Linked DNA regions of Homo sapiens: region 1 is linked to region 2. The links come from fine-mapping of genetic effects on gene expression. Tissue or cell type: blood mononuclear cells. Region 2 holds a variant in brackets; the other region holds the start of a gene. All regions are shown on one strand. Distances are from middle to middle. Region 1 holds the start of TSPYL5 (TSPY like 5). Region 2 overlaps LOC101927066 (a long non-coding RNA gene).

Evidence for each region.
Region 1: TSPYL5 starts here. The variant in region 2 is fine-mapped to the expression of TSPYL5 in blood mononuclear cells (TOPMed, PIP above 0.99).

The regions. Positions count from the first base shown.
Region 1 is chr8:97,270,066-97,282,606 of GRCh38, reverse strand. It overlaps TSPYL5 (TSPY like 5), which reads left to right and starts at 4,679. Exons shown (of 1, transcript NM_033512.3): 1 at 4,679-9,119. The coding sequence starts at 4,763. The coding sequence ends at 6,016. The region is part of intron 2 of LOC101927066 (a long non-coding RNA gene); the gene reads left to right. RefSeq lists an enhancer at 5,141-5,642.
Region 2 is chr8:97,223,440-97,235,980 of GRCh38, reverse strand. All of the region lies in intron 2 of LOC101927066 (a long non-coding RNA gene), which reads left to right. Among named protein-coding and RNA genes, the nearest start is that of TSPYL5, 48 kb to the left of the region's middle. RefSeq lists an enhancer at 3,349-3,956. The variant A/G (reference allele first, on the strand shown) is at 6,661.

The DNA of each region.
Region 1 (12,541 bases), 47 kb before region 2:
CTATTAGTGCTCCAGGACTTATCTTTGGAGAGCTAAATACACACACACACACACACACACACACACACACACACACACACGTCTCTCTCTCTCTCTCACACACAGTGAGAGTAGAGGCAGTGTGTGCGTGCGCACATTTAGCTCTTCAAATATATATCAAATATATATATCTTTCTCTTTCCATGATATTGTGTCTTACCCTCTTAAGAGCCAATTTTGAAATTCAAAGTGAAGAATTTGACTGGCTGAAATTCTGCTTGCTGGGTTCTTTGCTTTTTTTTTCCCTTTTCTAGAACAAAAGCCTTAGCCTAAGATCTTTTTTAATGGTTAAGATGCTGCAGGATAAAAAGGAAATGCCAAGAAGAAAGAATACGTCAGGCAATACTTTAAAATATTTTATAGCTACTTATAGGATATGATCTGAAATAAGTGACGTGGTCTACCATAAAATTTTCCTCTTTGGCGAGGAACTGGCAAGAAGCTAGGCAAATTTCTCAAGATGTTAAGCTCAAATAGTCTTGAAATTTATCATAAGAGGCAGATTTTTCTCTCCCTCCCTCCTTGACTATGAAAATATTTCTTAGGACACTGCCTTCTTTTCCATACCCTTTGGTAACCTGGGAGGGTTGGTTGGCAAAATTCCACACAGTAAGCAATACTCACTGCTATCTAACAGACTTAAACTTTCTCCTTGGGGAAGAATAGAAAAGTGCTGTGGCTAAAAATGTCAAGTCTGGGATCCTAAAGCTCTACGAGAGAAATGATGGGGAATATTGTTCCCTTGGCTGAGGAATAGGCTGGATGACAAATGTCTTTTTCCCAGCTTGTAAATTTCTGTGATTCAAAGAAAACATATCAAAAGGAACGGAGAAAGCACAATATGCAGAAAACAAAAGTGAAGATTTTTTATTCTAATATTTTGAATTACATACACACAAGTACATATGCATATACATACATATAGACATAATACACATAAACATTTGAAAAATATTTTATGAATTTCTAATAAATATTTGCTAATAAATATTACATTAGAAATAATCAATTAAATGCTTATATTACCATCAACTTAAGCCTGCAGATATTGCAAGAAGTTCACAACACTCCAGGATCTCTGAGTTCATGACAGTAAACTTGCATTTCTTTCATAATATTAACAGGATGCTTATGATAAATGCAGTGCAAATAGAGATGCTTCGTTCTCATCATGGGCTGTTGAAACTAAATTTATGTTGAGTATTGCTATGCCAGGTATATTGTATACCCCATAAATAAATGACTCATAACTAAATGATGTATGTATTATGTGTATATGTATGCATCTGCATATGTGTGTGTATATATATTTTTAATATATATAATTTTTTTAACATTAAAAGGTATTTTTACCCACTGGAGAGAGTTTTAATCTCTTAAGCCATAATTTTACATTATGTATTTTTAATTAAGAGCACGGTGCTGGAGTCGCATCGCTTGGGCAAAAAACATTTATTAACTGTGTGACCTTGGGCAAGTTATGGAACCATTTTGTGTGGCAGTAACCTCCTCCAAGACGAGAACAATAATTGCACCTGCCCCATGGGGTGATTGCAGAGATTAAATGAGTTAAGGCATAGCACTATATAAAAGTATGAAATAAATGTAAACTTTCATTATAATTACTGGTATGTGCAAGGCCCCATGCTAGGTACTCTGAGAGATAAAAGTAAAAAGAGACACAGTCTCCACACTTACACAGTTTACTATCCAATTAGGAACACAAACTACAGTTCCACATAAAGTTAAATATTAAGACCCAAGAAGAAAACACAGTCCAGTTCAGCAGCACAGACCAAACTCTTAAATACAAAAGCCATGGGGAACTGGGTGGCTTAGAGCAGAGGGGTATTTTTTTAAATTATTTCCCTTCATCTGATGCTTATCTCTTTGACATGATGAAAAAAGGCTCAAGGCAGATTGTATAATAAACACATTGCAATGGCCCAGCCCTGTGTTAATCCTACAGTGGTTTAGCCATTGGTGACTGCTACATGACGCAGATGCTGACGCTGGATTAAGACTCTTGACAACAGAGATGGGTTGATCTGTGAGTGTTCTAAGAAGTGGGCCAACCCATCAATGTCTAAAGTCTATAGAGGGTTGGCAAATGCGTCAGATGATTTTTTAATTTTTTTTCTGAGGTTTACGGAGAGTTTCAGGCTGTGATTATCTAGCTTAAGAGGTAATTTTGTAAAAGAACTGGTACAAAACAGGGTGTGCCCCACTGCCAAATGAATACTATAGTTAACAAGTACTCTGTGAGATCAAGGACAAGGCTGCTTATTGTGGTCTGGGGTGATCACAGAAGGCCTTGGGAAGAAATTATTATGAAAGGGCCTTCAACAAGAATTTAAGATAATCCTTGCACTAATTAATCCCTTTTAAGTCAAATATTAAATCTCCCAACTTAATTTTTAAATTTGTCACTCTAAATTCTTACTTACAGACTGTCCCTGAATGGTGCTCTGTAACAAAAGATAATTTTTTGGCTAAATTATGAGTTTAGTAGGTTTCCATGAGTTGATCTGAGAATACAGCATCCATAGCATTGCTTCTGTGGGAAAAGGGGAGCTATTCTGAACTTCAGACAATCATTTACAAACCCATTTTTGAAAACTCTGCTTTGATTGGTTCTTTCTTTCAACAAGTATTTATTAAGTGCTCTTGATATGTCAGACACTGTTGCAGGCACTGAGGATACATCAGTGAACAAAACAAAAATCTCTTCCCTCATGGAGCTGACATTCTAGAGAGAAGAGATAGTTAATAAGCATAATAAATAATTGGTATAGTGTGTTGGAATAAAGAAAAAGTACCATAGGATAAAGGGATGGGGTGGGTGGCAATTCTAAATAGGATGGTCATTGAGAAGGTGACATTTAAGCAAAGTGTGAAGGCAGCTGGCCAAGGCCACCAACCACATTGGGAAAGAGCATTTAAGGTAGAAGGAAGAGCCAGTGCAAAGGCTCTGAGGCAGGAGTTTACCTAGTGAGTTTAAGAACAGCAAGGAAGCCAGTGTAGCTAGAGGTGGGAGAGAGGAGAGAGAAGATGAGGTCAGAGAGGTAACTCATGTAGTGGCAGATAGAAGACTTGCCAGATCATACAGGGCCTTGCAGGCTATTCTAGAGCTTTTGAGAAAATGAGGAATCACTTGTATTAGGCCGGCTTAAAATAGGGCCATCTGTATAAAAATAATTCCTCTTTAAATTGTTTCCTTAAACTTAGGGGTGTATACAAATCACCCAGGATCTTGTTAAAATTCAAATTCTGACTTAGTAGGTCTGGGGAAAGGCCTGAGATTCTGCATCTTTAACAAGCTTTCAGGTGATATCAGGCTGCTGGTCCACAACCACACTTTGAGTAATGAGGTCCCGGGGCTTTTGGGCTTATCTCTCCACTAGCTGGTTACAAGGGCCTTTTTGTTCCCTTTGAGCCTGAAAAGACCACCTCAAAAGGTTTTTCTTTATATTTTTACATTAGCCACAGGTCCCCTCACTGTTCATGGTCCTATTACCTCACTAGTAAGAGCGTGGTCCAGGGCTGCCTCCGGGACTGTGGGGGAGGTTGTCCGGCTGTTTCCATGCACAGTGTAAGAAGTTTCTAGGGCTTCTGCAGTGCCACGTGGAGGCTCTGCTTCTGAACCTCAATCTGCTCCCTGAATAATAATTTCACCTCTCACCACATTCTTGTCTTACTCCAATTACAGGAGCTCTAATACAGGTCTTCACTTCTGGTCCTATACCTAGAGTGATAGTCCAGATCTGTAAACTGAGGCAGCTGGGGGACTCGGGTGATGTTCCCAGGCAGAAGAGGTGGTCAGGTGGTCCACGGAAGCCTGTTTGTTAAGGAGCAAGGCTGATTTCTTAAGAGCCAGCCCAGTAATTGACAGTGGAACAAGTCTGGAAGGACTTGCCATTTCCAAATATAAGGCATAGGATACGGAGTCCCATGGGCTTGAGTTTGAATTGTGCTTCCATCCCTTACTGTGTAACCTGGGGAATGTGCCCGGGTGTCTCTGAGATGCAGTTTTCTTATCTCGAAAATGGGAATGATATCAACACCTCCTTTGTAAATTGAGATAATGCATTTAAAGCACCTAGTAAAGTGCCTGGCACAAATGATACAAAATACTAGTTGCCATTATTTTTATAATTTCTACTATCATCTTACTGCGTACCAAATCGCTTTGACGCCCGGCATTATAGCATCCACCTTTACGTTCTCTGGAGTTAAGGTACCAGAGCAAATCCCTCAGCAAAGGTGTTCAAAGAGAGACACACACGCCCGAGCACTTTCTTCATGACAGATGCCACAAGAGATAACTGGAGGAGCTGAAGATGTTTAGTTTAGAAAACAGGTGATGGGGGACAGGTGGTGATGGCTCTTAGCGTTGCCTTGTTCAACGAGACCCTGAGAGCACGATGAGCCCGCGCGGAAGAGATGAAATGGCAGCACCCCCGCGAGCGCATATCAGAGAAACTCGCCGAGACCTAAAGCGAGTCCGCGCGAGATGGGGGTGGGAGCGCCCGCGGGGGTCGTCTCCTGCGCAGCCGCAGCGGCGGCGCCAATCACCGGGCGCATCACGTCCTCTCGCGACGGTACAGTTGTACGTTCGTGACGTCGGCGGTTGCCGTGGAGAGACCCGCTCGGTCCCGACCGAGAGCTGGCGTCAGGAGCCGCAGGGTCACAGCGTGTCTTTGAAGCTGCCTCCGCCGCCACCATGAGCGGCCGAAGTCGGGGTCGAAAGTCCTCCCGCGCCAAAAACCGGGGCAAAGGCCGCGCCAAAGCCCGAGTCCGCCCTGCTCCGGACGACGCCCCGCGCGACCCGGACCCTTCACAGTACCAGAGTCTCGGGGAAGACACCCAGGCGGCACAGGTGCAGGCTGGCGCGGGGTGGGGTGGCCTGGAAGCCGCTGCGTCCGCGCAGCTCCTCCGGCTCGGGGAGGAGGCCGCCTGCCGGCTCCCCCTGGACTGTGGCCTCGCGCTGCGGGCCCGAGCTGCGGGGGACCACGGGCAGGCCGCGGCCAGGCCCGGCCCGGGGAAGGCCGCATCTCTCTCGGAGCGCCTGGCCGCAGACACTGTCTTCGTGGGAACAGCGGGAACCGTGGGAAGGCCGAAAAATGCCCCCCGCGTTGGAAACCGGCGTGGCCCTGCCGGGAAGAAGGCCCCAGAAACCTGTAGCACCGCGGGGAGGGGGCCTCAGGTCATAGCTGGTGGGAGGCAGAAGAAAGGGGCGGCAGGGGAGAATACCTCGGTGTCAGCTGGGGAGGAAAAGAAGGAAGAGAGGGATGCAGGGTCGGGGCCCCCAGCGACGGAAGGCAGCATGGATACGCTGGAGAACGTGCAGCTGAAGCTGGAGAACATGAACGCCCAGGCGGACAGGGCCTACCTTCGGCTCTCCAGGAAGTTTGGGCAGTTGCGACTGCAGCACTTGGAGCGCAGGAACCACCTCATCCAAAATATCCCGGGCTTCTGGGGGCAAGCATTTCAGAACCATCCCCAGCTAGCATCCTTTCTGAATAGCCAAGAGAAAGAGGTACTGAGCTACTTAAACAGCTTGGAAGTGGAAGAGCTCGGCCTTGCCAGATTGGGCTACAAAATCAAGTTCTACTTCGATCGCAACCCGTATTTCCAAAATAAGGTGCTCATCAAGGAATATGGGTGTGGTCCTTCTGGCCAGGTGGTGTCTCGTTCTACTCCAATCCAGTGGCTCCCAGGGCATGATCTCCAGTCCCTAAGCCAGGGAAACCCAGAAAACAACCGTAGTTTCTTTGGGTGGTTTTCAAACCACAGCTCCATTGAGTCTGACAAGATTGTGGAGATAATCAACGAAGAATTGTGGCCCAATCCCTTGCAGTTCTACCTTTTGAGTGAAGGGGCTCGTGTAGAGAAAGGAAAGGAAAAAGAAGGCAGGCAAGGTCCAGGAAAGCAGCCAATGGAGACTACTCAGCCTGGGGTGAGCCAATCCAACTGATCCTGCACAAGTCTCCCTGCTACCTCCTGCTGGGCTGCTCCTGGTTGACTACATATTTGGCTCTCTGCCTTCTCTTCATGTTGGCCTCTGTGTACTATAGACCCTTTGGACTTTAGTTACAAGAATATGGCATTTATGATCATGTTCTTTTGCCTCCCATAGCCTCTTGCTTTTCTACGTTAGTGTCACATGTTATGTGATCGCACCCGGACTGTTCATATGTTAAGCACACATACTTTAGATGTGTGCTCCCTGTTATCTACATTGCCTGGACCTTGTTCTTGGCTCTGGCCTTTCCTACTTGTCTTTAACATGGACACTCATGAGTCATCCTCCAGGACGACCAGTGCATCCTCAAGCTCTGCTCCTTCAGGGCCAGTGACTTGCTGGGCTTCGTGTTCATGCTGGCCATGCATGTCATCTATGCAAGCGTTTCCATTGCCACTGCAGAATGAAGCCAGTGCACATGGTATTAGTCATCAGCCAGAACTTCCTGTTCTGTGGGTCTGGGGTCACCAGCTGAGATGTCACCTGCTTTATTTCTGGCTTTGGCCTGTGGTCTGTGATACCCATCCTGCTTGATGTTCTGCAGAATGGCACTTGACTGCTGGGCATGCATGAAGTTAAGGGCAAGAAACAGTATGCCATGTGTTCTGTACCATCATGTGTCTCTTCTTGCTTCTGGGCCCTTCTACTGGTGAACTTTCATCAAGATCTGCGCCATGCCGTGTCACTATCAAGCCATTAAGTTTTGTCTGGGTTGCTGTCAGCCCCAGTTGGCTTCCTGGTCAACAAGGACCTCAAGAACTGCCTGTGGACCGAGGCCCCCTACCAGTGCATGAGACACACACCTACCCTCCCCAGCTTTCCAGGAACCCTACTGGCTGCCAGACTGATGGGCGGGCTGGTATGTGTGGACATGTGTTCACTGTCATTATGCTGTGGCTCCAGGTGAGGGTGAGGACTGGGCCTATATAGAATCCAGATACCATTGTCAACTTCCCTTATTCCCGTCTAAGATGTGAGCAGAGTGCCATAGTAGGGGTTCTGGGAAGAGGTATTTCTGATTTGTGGGCCTCTGCTTGCTTGACTTCAGGTCACTTATACTTCTTATTTTGCTTGCCTGCCTTCATCCCTCATTTCCTCCCTCTCATTCTTCTTTCCTCCCTCCCTTTCCTGGTAGCCTCCTTTCCTCCCCTTCTGCCTTCCCCTTCCTTCTTTCCTTATTCTTTTTTATTTTGTTTAAATAGTACCACAGAGAAAACAACTGAAAAACCACATTTTTCTACATACAGCTGGGGAGGTAGCTGAGAACTTGGCACTGCGCACACATACTAGGTTGAAAGAGAGTTGAGGAAACCAGAAGGCCAAGTGGATCTGCTGGCAAACCCTGAACCTGTCTCCTGCGCTTGCTCTACAGTTCTGAAGTTGAAAATCCTTTTCATGCCTAGCATCTGCTTGAGTTATAAACCCCAAGGCAGCCATGTCATAGACTAGTGTTTACTCTTGTTTTGACTTTGTTTTAATGCTTCCTAAGACCCAAGTGCCTCCTGCTGTTTCCTCCTTTGTGGTAGCCTCTGGCCATCTGGACCTCAATCCCCAGCTTTCCCACTTTCAGCAGTCCTTTGCTCTCTTTGCTTCTACCTCAAATAGCCCCAGGAGTGGGCTTTAGTCTCCAATATGGAGCATCTCAAGCTTCTCCTGGGGGATGGGGATTGGGATGGGCAGAATCTGTTTTGGATCTCCGGGTTATTTCCAGTGGGTGTAAAAGCAGAGCTGGGCCTTTCCCTCTCTTATCCCTGAGGGTGGGTAAGAAGGACTGTATCTACACCTGTTCTTCCCTACCTTCTCTTTTGTTAGGGAGGCCTCATTCTAAGTTCCTCAAGAGAGTCCTTGGCTTAAAGCTGTAGCAAGGGTGTGCTAGGTGGGGGATTTGGAGCAAAACCGTCGAGTAGGCATGATACTGGTATGGAGTGGGCCTGCAAAATCAGACAGAAATGGCTTGAGAAGCCGCAGGGGGAGCATGCCTGTCTCTCAGTGATAGAGTATGGGAGGGACCTCCCTAGCTTGGAAAATGAGAATTGAAGGGGTTATGAACAAATAGGATGCCTAGTTGAGGATGTTCCCAAAGTTTTGTCCAATCTTATCATTAGTAGATTTTATAAGCCACAGAGACAAACCAGAAACGGAATAATGTTACTTTGGATGCTTTATTTTTTTGTTCTAGGTGTGGCTTTGTACATGCAGAAGAATGCTATATGCTGCACATTTTGCCTTTAAAGTCTTACGACTTTCCCCATTTTAGTCTAATGGGAAGATACAGATGTGCAAGTCTGCTTTTTTGTTTTTTGTTATTATTTTTTTTTTTTTGCTCTGTGTTATGGACATTTTCAGACATGCACAGAAGTGGAGAGGATGGTCCTTGGACCCCATGTGTCCATCACCTAGCTGCATCACTTATCAGCTATGGTCAACCTGGTTTCATCTGTATCTCTCTCTTTTCACCTGTATTGTTTATTGAAAATCCAAGACACTATGCCAATGCAACCGTGACTACTTTGGGAGATTGGTAGTCTCTTTTGATGGTGATAGTGATGGGGTGCACTATCATAATCACATCAGGTCTGCTTTTTGCTTTTAATGTTAACTAATGAAGTTCCAGAGATGGGCCTTAGAAATGTGTTTTAAGAATTAACAAGGAGTCTCAAAAAGAAATGAGAGGGATGCTTCCTTTCCCTTGCATCTACAAAACAAGAGAGAGACTGTTCTGTTGTAAAACTCTTTCAAAAATTCTGATATGGTAAGGTACTTGAGACCCTTCACCAGAATGTCAATCTTTTTTTCTGTGTAACATGGAAACTTGTGTGACCATTAGCATTGTTATCAGCTTGTACTGGTCTCATAACTCTGGTTTTGGAAGAATAATTTGGAAATTGTTGCTGTGTTCTGTGAAAATAACCTCCCCAAAATAATTAGTAACTGGTTGTTCTACTTGGTAATTTGACACCCTGTTAATAACGCAATTATTTCTGTGTTCTTAAACAGTATAAATAGTTGTAAGTTTGCATGCATGATGGAAAAATAAAAACCTGTATCTCTGTTATATTTCTGATTTTCAAAAAAGAATTGGAAGGTTTTTAAACAGAGGCTGGGCAGCTGAGAGAATATATACATTGCCCTAGATAAGTGATTCCCAAACCGCAGACCCTGACTAGCTACACAAAAATACATAAAATTTTGATTTCTAGGCCTTTTACCCAAAGATTGAGATTCTATGAATCTGAGAGGAAGCCAGGTAGCTTAGTTTTTAACATGCTTTCTAGTTGATTCAGAAGCGGTGAACTCCCATTAGAATAATCTAGATTCTATGAATCATCTAGATTCTAGTAGGAATACAGTGCTTCTTAAATTTTAGAGTACATCTGAATTGTGTGGTGAATCGTGTTAAAATATGCATTCTGATTTAGTAGTTTGGGATGGAACCTGAGATTCTGCATTTCTAACGAGTTTCCAGATGATGACAGTGCTGGTGATCTGTGAACTGTACTTTGAGTGGAAAGGGGGGGTGACCTTGAAGTCCCTTTTAAACTTAAGTAGTGGTTCTCAACTTTGGTTGCACACTAGAATTGTCTGGGAAGCTTACAGAAACACTGCCAGAGCTCCACACGAAGACCAACTAAATCAGAATGGGGTAAGGGATAGGTCTGGGTGTAGGTATTTTTAAAACTTCCCAGGTGATTCTAGTGTTTAGCCAGAGCTGAGAACTACATACTCTGATGCTGTTCATTTCAGATCCATAACAAGGATCATTTCCCATTAATCAGGAGAAGCAGTGGCAGACAACCAAGTGGCACACTAAGCTGCCCAGCAGAAAATGGACAAAATTAGAAGTGGGTGGTTACTGACAAGAAAATAAAATTGGCTTATATGACGAAGGGTTTTAATAAACATGCAGTGTTCAGGGCATAGTAGGTGCTACAGTGTTGAATGAATGAATGAATTTAAAGCAGTTTATATTCAGATGCCTGAGGGCATTTGAATTTGGTAATTTGTGAAGTGGGCCACATTTGTTTCATAAGAAGATCTTATCAGTTTTCTGGGGCTGCCATAACAAAGTACCACAGACTGAGTAGCTTAAACAACAAATTTATTTTCTCAGTTCTGGAGGCTAGAAATTCAAGATCAAGGTATCAGCAGGGTTGGTTTCTTCTGAGGGCCTCACTCAGCTTATAGATAGCTTTCTTCTCTCTCTGTCTTTACATGGTCTCTGTGTGTGTGTGTGTGTGTGTGTGTGTGTGTGTGTGTGTGTGTGTGTCTCTGTGTGTATATATATCCTAATCTCTTATAAGGATACTAGTCATCTTGAATTGGGGCCCCTCTAATGACCTCATTTAACTTTAATTACCCTTTAAAGACCCTGTCTCTAAATTCAGCTACATTATGAAGTATTAGGGATTATGACTTCCACATATGAATTTGGTGTGAGGGCAGGAGCAATTTAACCCCTCACAACATCTTAACTTGTATTCTTTTGACACATATGTGCCTCACATGTTATGGTAGTTAATTGTATTGAGGCATATCATGTGCCAGGCACTGTTGCAGGCGTTATACAAGGATTAATATATTAAGTCCTTATAACAAGTGATAATTATCTCTTAATGAGGGGATGGGTTGAAGAAATGGGGTAAAAAGAGGTTGAGTAAATTGTTCAGGATCATGCTGGTAATGAATGAGCCAGGCTTTAAATTCAGGCAGTCTGGTTCAAGAATGCACCAGCTCACATATAGCTCTTGACTTGAGTAGGAATAATCTTCAGTTTATCAACAGTATCTTTATGTAGAATCTCCTAATTTTGCATGTTAAACATAATTTAAACCCTTGGAGTTTTTCTGATATGTGGAATGCAGAAGGGATGGAGAGCAGCATCTCCAGGCCTGATCTTCCTCTCAGGATTCACTCAGAGTCTGCTTGGATTATGAATTGGGAGGGGCTCTCTGCCCAGTTCAATTTCATTTATGCACTTGCTTCTCTGTGGGTGCAGAGCCTCTGTTGTCCAGGCCCTCTTTCAAATACCTCTCTTCAGTTCCTTGGACAACCCATTCAATCTGGGATTTACTACTTCTCCATGGGCTCATTCACTCATTGCCTCTTATATGAACCAGTCCTTGGTGTAGACATTGGAGATACAGCTATGGACAAATACAACTTTGAATTTTTCTTCCCCCACCTGCACTCCACCCCGCCACCCACCTGCCATAGGCTTCAGTCTCTTCTTAGCTTTCACCTGGGGTTGACAGTCAATCTTTTTTTCCATTTTCCTGCATGGGGCTGGTGAATGCTTTAGGTGTCCATGTGGGTTGAAGAGGGGGCTAAAGGAAGCCTCCCTCACCTTTGGCCTTTAGGTCAGACTTCACAAGGGACTCAGGCCTTCCATAACCTGGAGAGGGAGGGCCTCTTGGGTCATTCTAGTCAAGAGTCCTTGGCCCCCCTTTTAGCTTTGACTTTTATTATAAAAAGCCCTCTTCTGATTTTTTCACTGTTACCTCCTGGGCTTTTTGGAAATGTGGTAGGTTTGTGCTAGGCCATAGGTGAGGGAGGAGAGAAAAATAAAATGGTCCTGCCACCCTGAGCTTACCAAAGATCTCTACCAGCTTTGGACTGTCTATTTCTTCTTGCACTTTGGGCTTCTTCATTCTAGTCTACTTTAGTGGTTTGCAACAGAGGAAAGAGAAACACTGCCCTAAGGAGGCACGTTAGAACCACCTAGGGAGGGAAATTTGGCAAATTCGCTTGCTCCTCTGAAGATTCAGAAAAGTCCCCAGCCATGGGGAGCCACTATAACTGATGGGTAGGGTCATATCCCTCAGGTGTTAGAACAATAAAAAAGTACAGCGTAGGCTATCCAGTCCATGATTTCTATCTTTATTTGCCCTTAGTGTCTTCACTCCTGCTTTTGGAATCTTCTCCAACTATATTTCACTGTTCAGGGCCACAACTCACTACTACTCATTCACTTTCACCTGAAACTCTGGCCTTAGAACCTCCTGTCAGGTGTCCAGCTACTGGCCATCCAGCGCTCGAGTCTTGAATTCCTCCTCTTCCTCCATCCTGTCAACCTGGTCCTCAGCTGAGGTTTGACAAATATAAGACAGTAGCTATCATCTGTGTGACCAACACTTCATGGTTTACAAAGCACATTCACTTATATTATCTTGATTATAACTACTATGCCATAAGAAGGCTCAAAGAGGTTAAATGACCAAAATCACAAAAGTAGTAGAGCCAGGACTCAAACTTGGGTCTTCTGATTCCAAGTTCCATCCATCCATGGGACGGTAAGCATGTGGCCCAGGGCAGATGTCTGGCACTATGAATCTAGACACTTCTTTGCACAGAACCTGTATTTAACTTTCTGCACAGCGGATTATCCAGTTGCTGCCCATCAATCTGAGTTGGCATATGAATGTGAAACTTCTTTACCATCCTGAACTACAGCATGCATGTGGTCATAACAACTAGGAG
Region 2 (12,541 bases):
TTCAGGTGACTGCAGCCCCAGCTGCCATCTGACTGCATCTGCGTGAGAGACTATAGGTGAAAACTTCCCACCTGACCCAGTCAATCCACAGAACCATGAGAGATCATAGTAAATTGTTTTAAGCCATTAAATTTTGATGATGGTTTGTTATGTAACAAGAGATAACCAGATAAGGTTAAATCTTAGAGGTCAACAGTCATGGTTTCAAATCTCAAGTTCATCATTTATCAACTATGTGATTGTGGGCAAGTCACCTAAAATATCTGAGCTTCATTTTCCTCATCTATAAAATGGGAATCAAAACAGAACCCACCTAATGGGTTTGTTATGGGAATTAAAAGAGAGAATGTATGAAAAGCGACAATATAGTGACAGAAAGTGGGTCAGTAGGTAGTTACTATGGTTAGTAAACCAGTGTGAGTCATCTGCTTTTGTTGAAAGGTAGATGAGATGCTTGTGGCCATGTGGGAAGAATTAATTTAAGAATCTGGTCATTTTACTAAGGACCTGAGAGTAAGGTTAGGTCATTAGCATCTTTGTATTTGCTGTCCATTTTTCTATAATGGACTATAGGGGATTTTGATTCATGGGGGAAATGTTCTGAAAAAATCCTGGGCTCAAAAGAAATAGAAACACTTGGCCTTTTAAAATGGGGCTGTTATGGTTCCATAGACGGCACGTACCACCTCCACATGCGCTGAGCAGGCCTAGCTCACTAAGGTCATAGTGAGCAGGTGAGCAGACCCAGCCCTTGTTACAGTGAGACCAGAGGCACTAGCCTAGAGAGAAGGAGCAGGGGCTCTGAAGCCCCCTGGAGGCCTAAGATGCTGCTGCTGTCCACTGTATGTGCATGTGGATTGGTGAGTGGGTGCTGGAATTCCACATGGGGTGAGGGCAAACTTAAAGAGGCTAGACCCCAGCTGAGAGGTTTAAAGGAATGTCTTGATGTTCAGCACATCACCATACTGATGTGCTCAGTGAGCTTTGTCACCCATTCATTTATTTATATAGGCATTCACTCATTCAACAACCATTTATTGCATGCCTCTATGCACCAGGCCCTGTGCTATGCTCTGGGGACGCACGACACTTAAGAGACGGTTCCTCCCCTGTGATCATGAGGGGCTCATGAACCAGCAGGGGAGACAGACAGGTAAACAGGAAGTATGGCTAGGGGGTAAGTACCATAGTAGAGGGCGACATGGGAGTGCAGAGGAGGGGCTCCAACTCTGGCATCAACCTACTCCACCTTGGGAAAAAGTTCTAAACAGGGAAGCGAGTGAGTCATGAGCTGCATCTGGAAAAAGGGATAGGCTTGGGATTGACCTAGTGAACTGTAGGCAAAAGCCACCGACCAGAGGCACCGAAGGACAGGGCCACACTGGCATCTAGGGGCCATAGACTGGCACACTCTCAGGCAGCCCTGGAATCTGGTGAGTCTGTTCCACAACTCCCATGGGGCCTGCAGAGCAAGTGTCTCTCACAGGCACAGATTAAAGCAAAACATCTCAACTATGTCTTGGTTTTGGCTCCACAGATGACTTCTGTGTGGGCGAATCTTCTTAATGTGTTCTCTTACTTTTTATTGTCCATGCTGTAAAACGTTAAAAAAAAAAAAAAAAAAGCTAAAATAAACTTCCAGAGTTCAAAATGGCAGACTGTGACTAGGGCCAATGTCCTTTTCCTTCCAATGTTGGTTTGTCTGCCAAGTGATCTCATACTTGCTTGGTGAGGCTCTGCCTCCTCGACTCCTATCTTCTCTTTCCTCCACCTCCCCATTCCCGGCCACATGAGGTTCTCATCAGCATCATTGTGGTCAAAGGACTAGGCCCTGGGGTGCAGTCTGCCCTGACTCTCTTTGGGGCTTGGCTGAGGGAATTTACTTGTATCCTGCTTTAGAAGCTGAATTGCCTACAGAGGATTGGGACCCAACATGACATTTTCTGTCAGTGACAGTATAGAGCTCTCTATTTCCTTATCCAACTGATTGTTTAGGACTAAGTTAGGAACTGCTTTCTCCCTGGAGTAATCGCACAACATGGGCCAGCCATGGTCAAGTACAATCTGAGTGTAATGTTCATCAGCATCAGTTGGTGAGGGTCCTAGTTCTAGACTGAGAGCTCCTTCAGGGGAGGAAGCAGACTTTTGCCAATTTCCCAACACTAGCCAGCTCTGTGACATCTGGAAGGGGCTCAGTGGCAGTTGTTGAATTTAATCTGGATACCACCCAGGCAGGCAACAACCCTCTGGTTCACCTTATTATGAGAGAGGCAGTCTCTTCTACAACCAAATACTAATAATGATAATGGTAACAAAACACTATTACTATTTATTGAGCCCTGATGCTTTGTCAGATACTAGGATAGGCACTTTATATCCTTTACCTGATTTGAGAGCCAGAATCTCTGGGTGTATAGGTTTCACCGTCCTCGTTTTACTGATGAAGAAATGAAATCTCAGAGAGGGTAGGCAGTTTGCAACAGCCTGGTTGTTGGGGCTCAGAATCTTGGACAGTCCATTATGAAGACCCTGACTCTTTTTTATTTTTGCTTTTTTTGAGACGGAGTTTTACTCTTGTGGCCCAGGCTGGAGTGCAATGGCATGATCTTGGCTCACTGCAACCTCCACCTCCCGGGTTCAAGCGATTCTCCTGCTTCAGCCTCCCGAGTAGCTGGGATTACAGGCATGCGCCACCACACCTGGCTAATTTTGTATTTTTACTAGAGATGGGGTTTCTCCAGGTTGGTCAGGCTGGTCTTGAACTCCCGACCTCAGGTGATCCACCCGCCTCAGCCTCCCAAAGTGCTGGGATTACAGGACCTTGACTGTTATGCGTGATGTTTTGTTGTAAATGACTGCGCTAACACTGGTGGAAAGACCTAACCCTGCAGAATTCCCCAGGTACCAGGCAGCTGGGGGACAAATTTATACTCAAGGTTCCTCTCAGGCATCGCCTTTGTCTAGGGCAGACGTCTAACTCTGTCTCCTTATGGAGGACTGAGGGAGAAGCAGGAATCAGGCTTATGCAGTCGAAGGCTCAGTTTTAGTGCCCAAGCAGCAAAGAGATAAATGCCATCCTAATTCCCACTTAAAGTAAGCAGACAAGCCCTGGGGCTCACATGGACAGGAGGAAGCTGAGGGATTCAGTAAGTCTGTTTATTTTGGTTTGTATTTGACCTTGCATTACATTCACCAAGCAACTCCCAGTGAATGCAGAAACCTTTCCTCTGCCTCGGGAACATTTCCGTACAAACAGGAACACAGCACAGATGACAAAAATTAAGATGTACTCTCCAGCTTGCCTTGCTGTATTATTTAAAACAATTACTGTATGATTTTCCTTTCACATAGCCATGGAAACCCTGCTGAAAGGATTTAATACAATTTATTGTGTGAAGCTTAAGAAGAAATCTGTTTCCCCGGTGCTGGAAAACAAAGCAAGTCAGTTTCTCCTCACTTCCTACAAGGTGTGATGGACGCAAATTGTGGACCGGTGACCTCACCCAGCAGGGACTGAGCTTTCTGGGAAAGCATTCTGGAGATAAGTGGACCTGTTTCTTTTAGAGGCAGCGAAAAACAAAGCCGGTGCCAGAGGAATGATAATCTCCTTTGATGTGCCCGGAACTGCTTGACTGTTTCAGAAAGGGAAGCACAGCTCTGAGTGGCAGTACTACAATGCCTTTCAGTAAACACAATAGACAAATTTCCCTGCCAGGTTACCCCAGGAGCCTCTCCACTCACAGGATCCTCTTATAGGTATCTTGGTGTCAGCGATGGGATCTTAGGAAGGAGAGTCGCTTGACACCATGCTCTGATGAGAGGGTGGGCTCACTTTAGAGCCTATTAGTACCAATGGCACAGCTCAACCCTATCTGCCTGTTAGAAACTCCTAAGGAGCTTCAGAAAACATGGAAGCCTAATTCCCAGAACTAATTGATTATATTGGAACCTGTATTTTAAACAGCTCTCCAGATAATGATTATGTGCAGCTAGGGTTGAGATCCACTGCTCTGGGACTTGAACTTCTTTAGGCTGAACTCTTTGTCTGTTTACTTTCTGATTCTCAGCTAGAGACCCAGGGCCTGATGATCTGTAAACCTAAAAAGGCTGCTGTAGCACAAAACTCATCTTTGCAGCTCAGCTCTTCATCCCTAAATTCAGTGGGTGAAGGGAAGAATATTAAATTGCAGAAGAATTCCCCAAAATTGGGGAAGCTGGATAAAGCGTTCACTGGACCTCTCTGCACTGTTTTTGCAACTTCCTGTAAGTCTATAAAAATTTCTAAACAAAACATTTTTAAAAATTGCAGCTGAAGACTTGAATTCAAATTCTGGATTGTTACTTATTAGGTATGGGACTTAGGGAAATAAAAGACCCTCTGGGCCTTTTCCTTTGGAAGATAGGACAATTATTTCTATTTATTACATGATCAAATGAGAAAATAAAATTCTAGACCTAGATTTAGCTGGGGTCTCTTTGCCCCTTAAGGGGTAAAAGGAGATTGTTCAAACTCTCTGAGTCCATTTTCTGCTGCTATAACAGAATTCCTGAGAATAGGTAATTTGTAAAGAAAAGAAATTCAGTTCTCACAGTTCTGGAAGCTGAGAAGTCCAAAATCAAGGAACCAGTAGGGTTGGTATCTGCTAAGGACCTGGTCTCCATTTCCAACATGGTACCTTGAATTCTGCATCCTTCAGGAGGGATAAACGCTGTTCCTCACCTGGTAGAAGAGTGGAAGAGAGCCAACACACTTTCTCAACTCCCTCAAGACTCCCCAGCCACTGTCTTTTTAAAATGGTAGCTATGATTTATTGAGTGCTGATTACATGGCAACAGCTGTGTTAGGTTCCTTACATATATCACATTAATCTTGCAAGGAAGAAAGTGTTAGATCTGTGATGGAAACTGAGGCTCAGAGAGGTTGAGGAATTTGCCCAAATTAACACAGAAAGTGTCAGAGGTAGGCTCCAAAACCTATGTTTTTTCCATACTTCAGGCTACAGATGGCAGAACTAATAAACAGTTTTTGCTATCAAAAGAACAGACCAAACAAAAGTTAAGTTTATGAGAATTGTTGAGTGACCTCTATATATGGTTATGTCTGCTCTCTAAGCACCCCTGTGCTCATGTAAGAATAACTACCTCAAAGTAGTGGATATCTGCATATTGCCTGGAATGGTGCTGGGTACACAACACAGTTGGTGCTTGACGAATGCAGGTGTTGGTTGTAGTGCTGGCAGTCTTTGTTTGGTATGGTGGGGGGGGTGGTAAGCTAGTCCCATTACGTGATGTGGATATATTGTGCAAACCCTTTTTATGGTGGGATTAATCCATTCACAAAGACAGAGCTTTCATGGCCTAAACGTCTCCCAAAAGGCCCCACCTCCCAATGCTGTTCCATTGGGGATTAAGTTTCAACATGAGTTTTGGAGGGGATAAAAACATTCAAACTATTGCACCCTTGAACTACAGGTTATGGAACTTCCAACTACTTCCTCCAGAGTCACAGGAATTTTGGGGTAAATTACATGCTTGTGGTCGGTCACCTTGGGTTTTGAGCTCCTTCTTCCACTAAATTAATCAATTTACGTATTGTCTCACCCAAATATGGTGCCCAAGCAGCAAAGAGATAAATGCCACAAGGACAGAGGAGGAGGCTGAGGGATTCGGTAGGTCTGTTTATTTCAGTCTATGTTTGACCTTGCACTACATTTGCCAAGTAACTCAGTTGCTAACTTTCCTGAAACAAACCTCTCCCACAGGCATTTTTTGTGTGTAGGTGACATTACTGAAGGCTTGGAAAGATGAAAGGAATTGTACCATAGCATCAGAAACTGACTCAAACACAGTGTCATCCAATTCTGCTTCGAAAGGTTCCTTGGACCCCTTCATGTTGCTTGGTCCTCAACTCTTCTGTTCCCATCTTCCCTCCTGTCTTTTTCATTCACTCCCCCGCCCCCTGGTTTCTGCCCATTTCTTTCTTTCTCTTTTTTTAATGTTGACTTTTATTTTAGATACAGGGGGTACATGTGCAGGTTTGTTATATAGGTATAATGCACCCAGGTAGGGAGCATAGTACTCAATAAGTAGTTTTTCAACCCATACCCCCTCCCTCCCTCCCATCTGTAGTAGTCTGCAGTGTCTATTGTTCCCACGTTTGTGTCCATGTGTGCTCAATGTTTAGCTCCCACTTATAAGTGAGAACATGCAGTATTTTGTTTTCTGCTCCTGCATTAATTAGTTAGGATTATGGCCTCCAGCTCCATCCATGTTGCTGAAAGGACATGATTTCATCCTTTTTTGTGGCTGCATAGTATTTCATGGTATATATGTACTACATTTTCTTTATCCAATCCACCACTGATGGGCACCTAGGTTGATTCCATGTCTTTGCTATTGTGAATAGCTAGGTGATAGACATAGGAGTGCATGTGTCTTTTGGCAGAATTATCTATTCTGGAGGGGTGTATACCCAGAAATGTGATTGCTGAATCAAATGGTAGCTCTAAGTTTTTTGAGAAATCTCTAAACTGCTTTCCATAGCGACTGAACTAGTTTACATTTCCACCAACAGTGTGTAAGTGTTCCTTCTTCTCCATAGCTTTGCCAGCATCTGTTGTTTTTTGACTTCTTAGTGATAGCCATTCTAACTGGTATGAG[A/G]TGGTATCTCATTGTGGTTTTGATTTGCATTTCTCTGATTAGTGATGATGAGCATTTTTAAATATGTTTGTTGGTCACTTATGTTTCTAGTGTGGACCACTTTAGCTATTTCCTTTGTTTCCTTGGCTCTCATCTTTCCTCCAGGAAATTTATCAAAATATTTTCTGATCTATCCAGCCCTTCTAAAGCTCCATGGAACTTTAGTTGGTCAACAAAAGCCAGCCCCCAACTCCAATCTAGATGCGATGGTCACAGCCAGCTCAAGCTTGCTGTCCACTGCACGGCCTTATACCATGTCACCACCAGCCCTGTGGAAGTCCCAGAGAGTCAGAGATGAGAGCACTTGTAACTCAAACTTTCACTGATTTTCCAGGCTTAAATCTGGAGCCTACATTCTGGACTTTGGGAATTTAAAAATCTAACATTTTTGGAAAGAAAGGGTGTATAGAGGCTTCTTATACCTTGAATAAAAAATGGCATTTTGGAATGTAAGCAAGTGAGACTCCTAAGAATTAAATTTCGTCAGAAATACACAAATTTACAAAAAAAAAAAAAAAAAAAAGAAGAAGAAGAAGAAGAAAAATGCACTAGGCAGAGTGCCCCCTGCCAAACCTCACTCATTCAAGAGGAATTTGGAGTGATGTTGCTGCCCATAAACCTCCTGTCTACCTGGAGAGGGCCTGGGCTGGTATTCTGCAAACAGTTCCTTGTTTGTTCTCCTTCCTGTGGGTCTGTGTGCACTCAGATGATGGGAATCAGATTTAAATGGATAACTAGAAGTTGGAAGGAATCTGATTGGTTCTCACTGCCCAGGAGTAGCTCCATGATATGGTTTGGCTGTGCCCCTACCCAAATCTCATTTTGAATTTTAGCTCCCATAATTCCCACATGTTCTGGGAAAGACCTGGTGGGAGATAATTGAATCATGGGGGTGGTTTCCCCCATACTGTTCTCATGGTAGTGAATAAGTCTCAGGAGATAGGGTGGTTTTATAAGGGGTTTCCCCTTTCAGTTGGCTCTCATTCTGTCTTGACTGCTGCCATGTAAGACATGCCTTTTGCCTTCTGCCATGATTGTGAGGCCTCCCTAGCCACAAGGAACTGTGAATTCATTAAACCTCTTTTTCTTTATAAACTATCCAGTCTCAGGTATGTCTTTATTAGCAGCCTGAAAACGGACTAATACATTCCAGAAAGCCTTCCCACCTTCTTCTCCCTTGAGTGTCTACATGAGATGCAGAGTAGCTTTGTCTAAGATGGTATCCCTGAGAATTGTCTTCTCACTCAGGCAGAGTTGATTGGCTTCCCCGCTGTGCTGCCGTGGGATGCTGTGCATACCTCCATCAGAACAGACTTGACCTTCTGCTTGCAATTGTTTGCTTGCACGTTGGTTCGCTCTTTCCCCCCACCCCCTGCACTAGCTGGTGAGGTTCTTAAAGGCAGGAAACGCATCTTTCCCAACACATAACACAATCCCTGGTGCAGAGAAGACATTTGATAAATGTTTGCTCTAAGAATCAATGAATGAGGTCTCACCAAAAAAGAGCACTGAGTTTGCTAGGGTTATTTATTTTAATATTATGCAAAACACAGAGCAGACATCACCTTCTGTTTCTAAATCCTTTGTGATTGATTAATCAACAAGTTATTACTGAAGCTAGCTACAGCTAAGACCCAGGTGAGAGGGAAGCAATGGCAACCACATACTTTGAGAGGTTTATTAATCGACTGTATAACAACACTGCTGCATCACATTATTAGAGTCATTCTGCCTTAGAGCTCAGGGTTCTACTTATAAAGTGACTTGTTTAATTAAAAAAATCCTAGCAAGGATAAAGGATAGAACATTTTATAATTACTTGCCAATAATCATCAGCTCACCCATTATAGGGCAAGATTAAAATTCAGCTCTTCAGAACTTGAGAGTCTGTTCTCATATACTTTTCCTTGGAATAGTTCATTTCTGGAGAGAGACACTAAATACTTCTAGTGGGCAGTGATGTGTCTCTTAGCAGCAGAAGGCAGGACTCAGTTCCCAGTGGCCCTTTGCCCTTCTTCCTCTGAGGTCCTCTACACCTGGTCTGTGGTATAGGAGGACTTCTTAGCTTCCAGGTCAATGCTGGCACTGGGGATGGAGATGGATGATGGGAAGCTGCTGAGATACTTGCCAAGCCTCAATGCTCATGCCTATTTAGTGACCTTGTGTTGAGACAGCATGATATGTACTCATCTGTACTTCATGGAAAGTCAGTCCATACACATTTACTGAGTACCTTCTGTTGTAGGTGCTGAGGATTCTAGGTGAACAGGGAAGTCATGGTCCCTACCCTGATGGACTAGTGGAGAAAATAGACATTTAACAAATAAATGATTCTGAATGTGTAAATTGCTGTGAAGGAGAAGTGTAGTGCAAGTCAAGGGTATAACAGGAGTGGTGCTGGAGGCTGAGAACAGGGCCACCATGTGCTGTCGTGCAGACTGTAGTCTATGTGAATGGCACCCCCTGGAGATGTATATTACTTAACAGGTCTGGTCAATATGGCAGTTCTAGCTGAGAGGAAGCAAATGACATGCAAATTGCAAAGGAGGAAGAGGATTGGCGAGGTTAAGACATGTGCAAAGGCCCCAAAACAGAAAGAAGCTGAACATGGTCCAGTAATGGGAAGAACCAGTATGACCAAGTAGAGAAGTAGGCACTGGGGAGAGAGGAGGCAGTCAGGTAGAGCCTCATAAAGCCATGGCAAGGAGCTTGGATACTATTATAATTGCAATGGGAGACAGGAGGATTTTAGAGCTGGAAATGACATGATCTGATTTCTGTCATTTTGGATGCCATTCGGGTTGGATTGGGGCGAGCATGGTAAGATTGGAGATGTAGAGAGGGCTTAGGAGGCTATTGCGAGAGTCAGTTTGCAGAAGACTTGGTACGCATTGGGTGCCCAATAAACCATGACTCCCTTTTCCTTCCCTCTCTTCTAATCGTGACATGCTTTGTACTTCCCAAAGCACTTTCAATTTGTTATTTTATTTGATCTGCATTATAGCACTTTCAATTCATTATTTCATTTGATCTTCATAACAGCTGAAGGGGGTGAGGTGGGTATTATCACCCCCCTTCATGCCTGTGGTAACTGAGGCTTTGAAGGGAAAAATGGCTTTCAGGAGGTCCATCAGCCAGTAACTCCTGGAACTGGTTCTCAAATCAAATCAAGGAACTTGACCAATCCCCAACTCTACCATATTATGCAATGTCCAAATGAAATCATCTAATTAGTTAATTTGTTAAGCACGAAGAAGTAATTTAAAATTTCTAGGGGTTACGATTTGCAGGCAGAAAAAGAAAAAAAGAAAAAGAAAAATACCGGTGAAGGAGCTGGTATTTCCCTAGGAACAGCCTGGATCCAAACTTCAGAATAATTGCGTAAAGAACACTGTATTCCACTGGAGTCACAATAACGCTTTTCTTTTCATCTTTATTCACCCCAGTGTGGCCCACTAAAAAGGATCCAGTGTGCTCCATGTCTGAAAAGATATATTTTTGCTCATTAAACACCAAACAGAGGTTAAGACATTGACAGATCAACATTATTTATACTGAAGGAGGCAAACGTTCCTTTCAAAGACTTTCATTTCCTCTGGAAACGTGTGCTACCTGAGCCGTAGCCACCAAAATATGTATTTTCTTTTCCTTTTAAGGAAATGCCACTTCATTGCCAAACCTCAAACATAGCACCCCAAATGGAAAGAGAGGGTTCTCAGGTACGGCAGGGAGAAAACTCAGATTCAAAAGCCGCTCTGTTCTCATCAACTAGGGACTGCATCTGAGACCGTCTGTGGATTTAATGTTCTGCAAATCTACTGAAAAGAGATTTTCGTCACAATTGCATTATAATGTTTTTCCCCAAGAACACTCCTTGTTTAGGAGCCAACAGCTCAAACCTTGAACAAATTGTTCCCAGACCTTCCTTATTTCCAATCTCCTTGTGAAGAAAGAGGCAGGCATAAGGGAGGATCAGTCTTATCTCACCTTTGTCCTTGACACTGGGGAACACAAGATAAGTTGCCGTAACCCCTCGTTTTGACTTTGAGGACTATAATAAGCAATTGGCCCTTTTTCCTTTTTTTTTTCTTTGCCAGAGTTTTGTCAGAATTAATTCACTTGGATTTGCTGTTTTGCTTGAATCTCTGTGGAAATGACTAATGCAGAGCATTATAAGCATAGTCTCCATGCTTATGGAGCATGGGCCATTATGGCCCAGTGGGAAATGGAGAATTGTAAACATGAAGAGGGAACTTTTCCAGTAAGCTCGGGGAGGGAGCGGCAGAGAGGGGGAGAAGTTACTAGAACCCAATGCTGCAATGGCCCCCAGGTACGCTCAGAGGAAGCTCTGGGCTTGGGCATTCAGGAAAGACCCTTATGAGGATGCAAGGTTGCCACATATGCCTCCTTGGCTTGGCTTTGTTGTCACCACTGAGAAACCCCAGCCCCTTTCCCCTTGGCCCCTGCCCAGAGGTGGAAGGAAGGGGTGGGTGCCAGCTTTTTTGTGGCTGCATTTGCATCTCAGTTCTGGGGAGAAGGTGCAGTGGGGGGACCCAGCTGTGGCTGTCCTGCAGAAGCAGCGGCAGAGGGGGCGCCTGGGACACACTCTGCTTTCTCCCCTCCCTGCAGCTGCTCCACCTGTGCACAAGCGTCCCTGTCTGCACTTGCTTAAGTGTTTAGGCCATTCCTGACCCTGTAGGGGATCTTTCCAATCCCTAGACATCTCCTCCTTTTCAAAGACTTCCTGGATTTCTTCCCCTGCCATTCCCACTTCTCCCCAAACATTTTCCTCTTTCTGGGACTTGGTGAGAGTTTAAGTATTTACTACATCTGCTGAGGATTATTGGTGCACAAATTTGTATCCTTAGGGGTCTTTGATTGCAAGCAACATAAAGTGACTCTGGTTGGCCAGGGGAATGGGGTTATGGGGAGGTAGATCAGGTGCCTGTAGAATCAGAGGGAATGTTGGAAAACTAGGCTAGGAGACAAGCAAAAGGTGAGAAAGCCCTAGAGGATGAGGAAGCAAAGCCCCAGGAGTAGAATTCTAGCAGGACTGCATGCCCAGGGTGCCACCACAGGGGAGTAGGACTCTGGACATATCACCATTCCTAGGGACACGGACTCAAGATGCAGAGATGAGAAAGCCCCTGCTACTGAGTGTGGTCCCATGCCTGTCCCCTGTAACACTGGGATACTGAGGGAGGCTCTGGGGGAAGGAGATTTTGATTGCTTTATTTGGAGGGCAGGTGCCTGGGCTTACCATCCCACTACAACTCAAACCAGGAGGAAATCAGGGATCAGGGTGCTCTTAGAGAAGGTGAATGGATGCTGAGTGGGGTGTGAAGGGGACAACAAAGCCACCACACTTTCTCCCTTCCCCTTCTGTCCCTGATGCAGAGTCCCCTGGAGGGTCAGGGGGTGTGGGAGGTGCTCAGCTGGGCTTGCTGCTGCAGGTTTAACACAGGGAAGAGGGATGCCCTTAGAGAGAAGGCCGGGTGCCTCTTTCTCCTTGGAATTGTTAGCCGTGAATGCTCAGGAAACTGGGGCAGAATCTCCTGGGGAACCTGAGGAGGATTCCTTCCCAGATCCCCTGTGGTTGCCTGGGAGTGAGCAAAAGGTGGGAATAAGTGCAGCTGAGAACTGGAGGAGACAAATCACACCTGCATCACCTCTACCTAGGAATCCCTTGCTATCCTAATGGCTGATGATGGCTGCCTTTGTCTTCTGGCCTTCCTACTACGCCCACGCTAGGACCCCAGACTGCATATATTTATTTCTGAAGCAAGTTTTAAAAATACAGCACCTTATAATGGTTGGTGGTTGAGTTACAGTTTTAACCAGG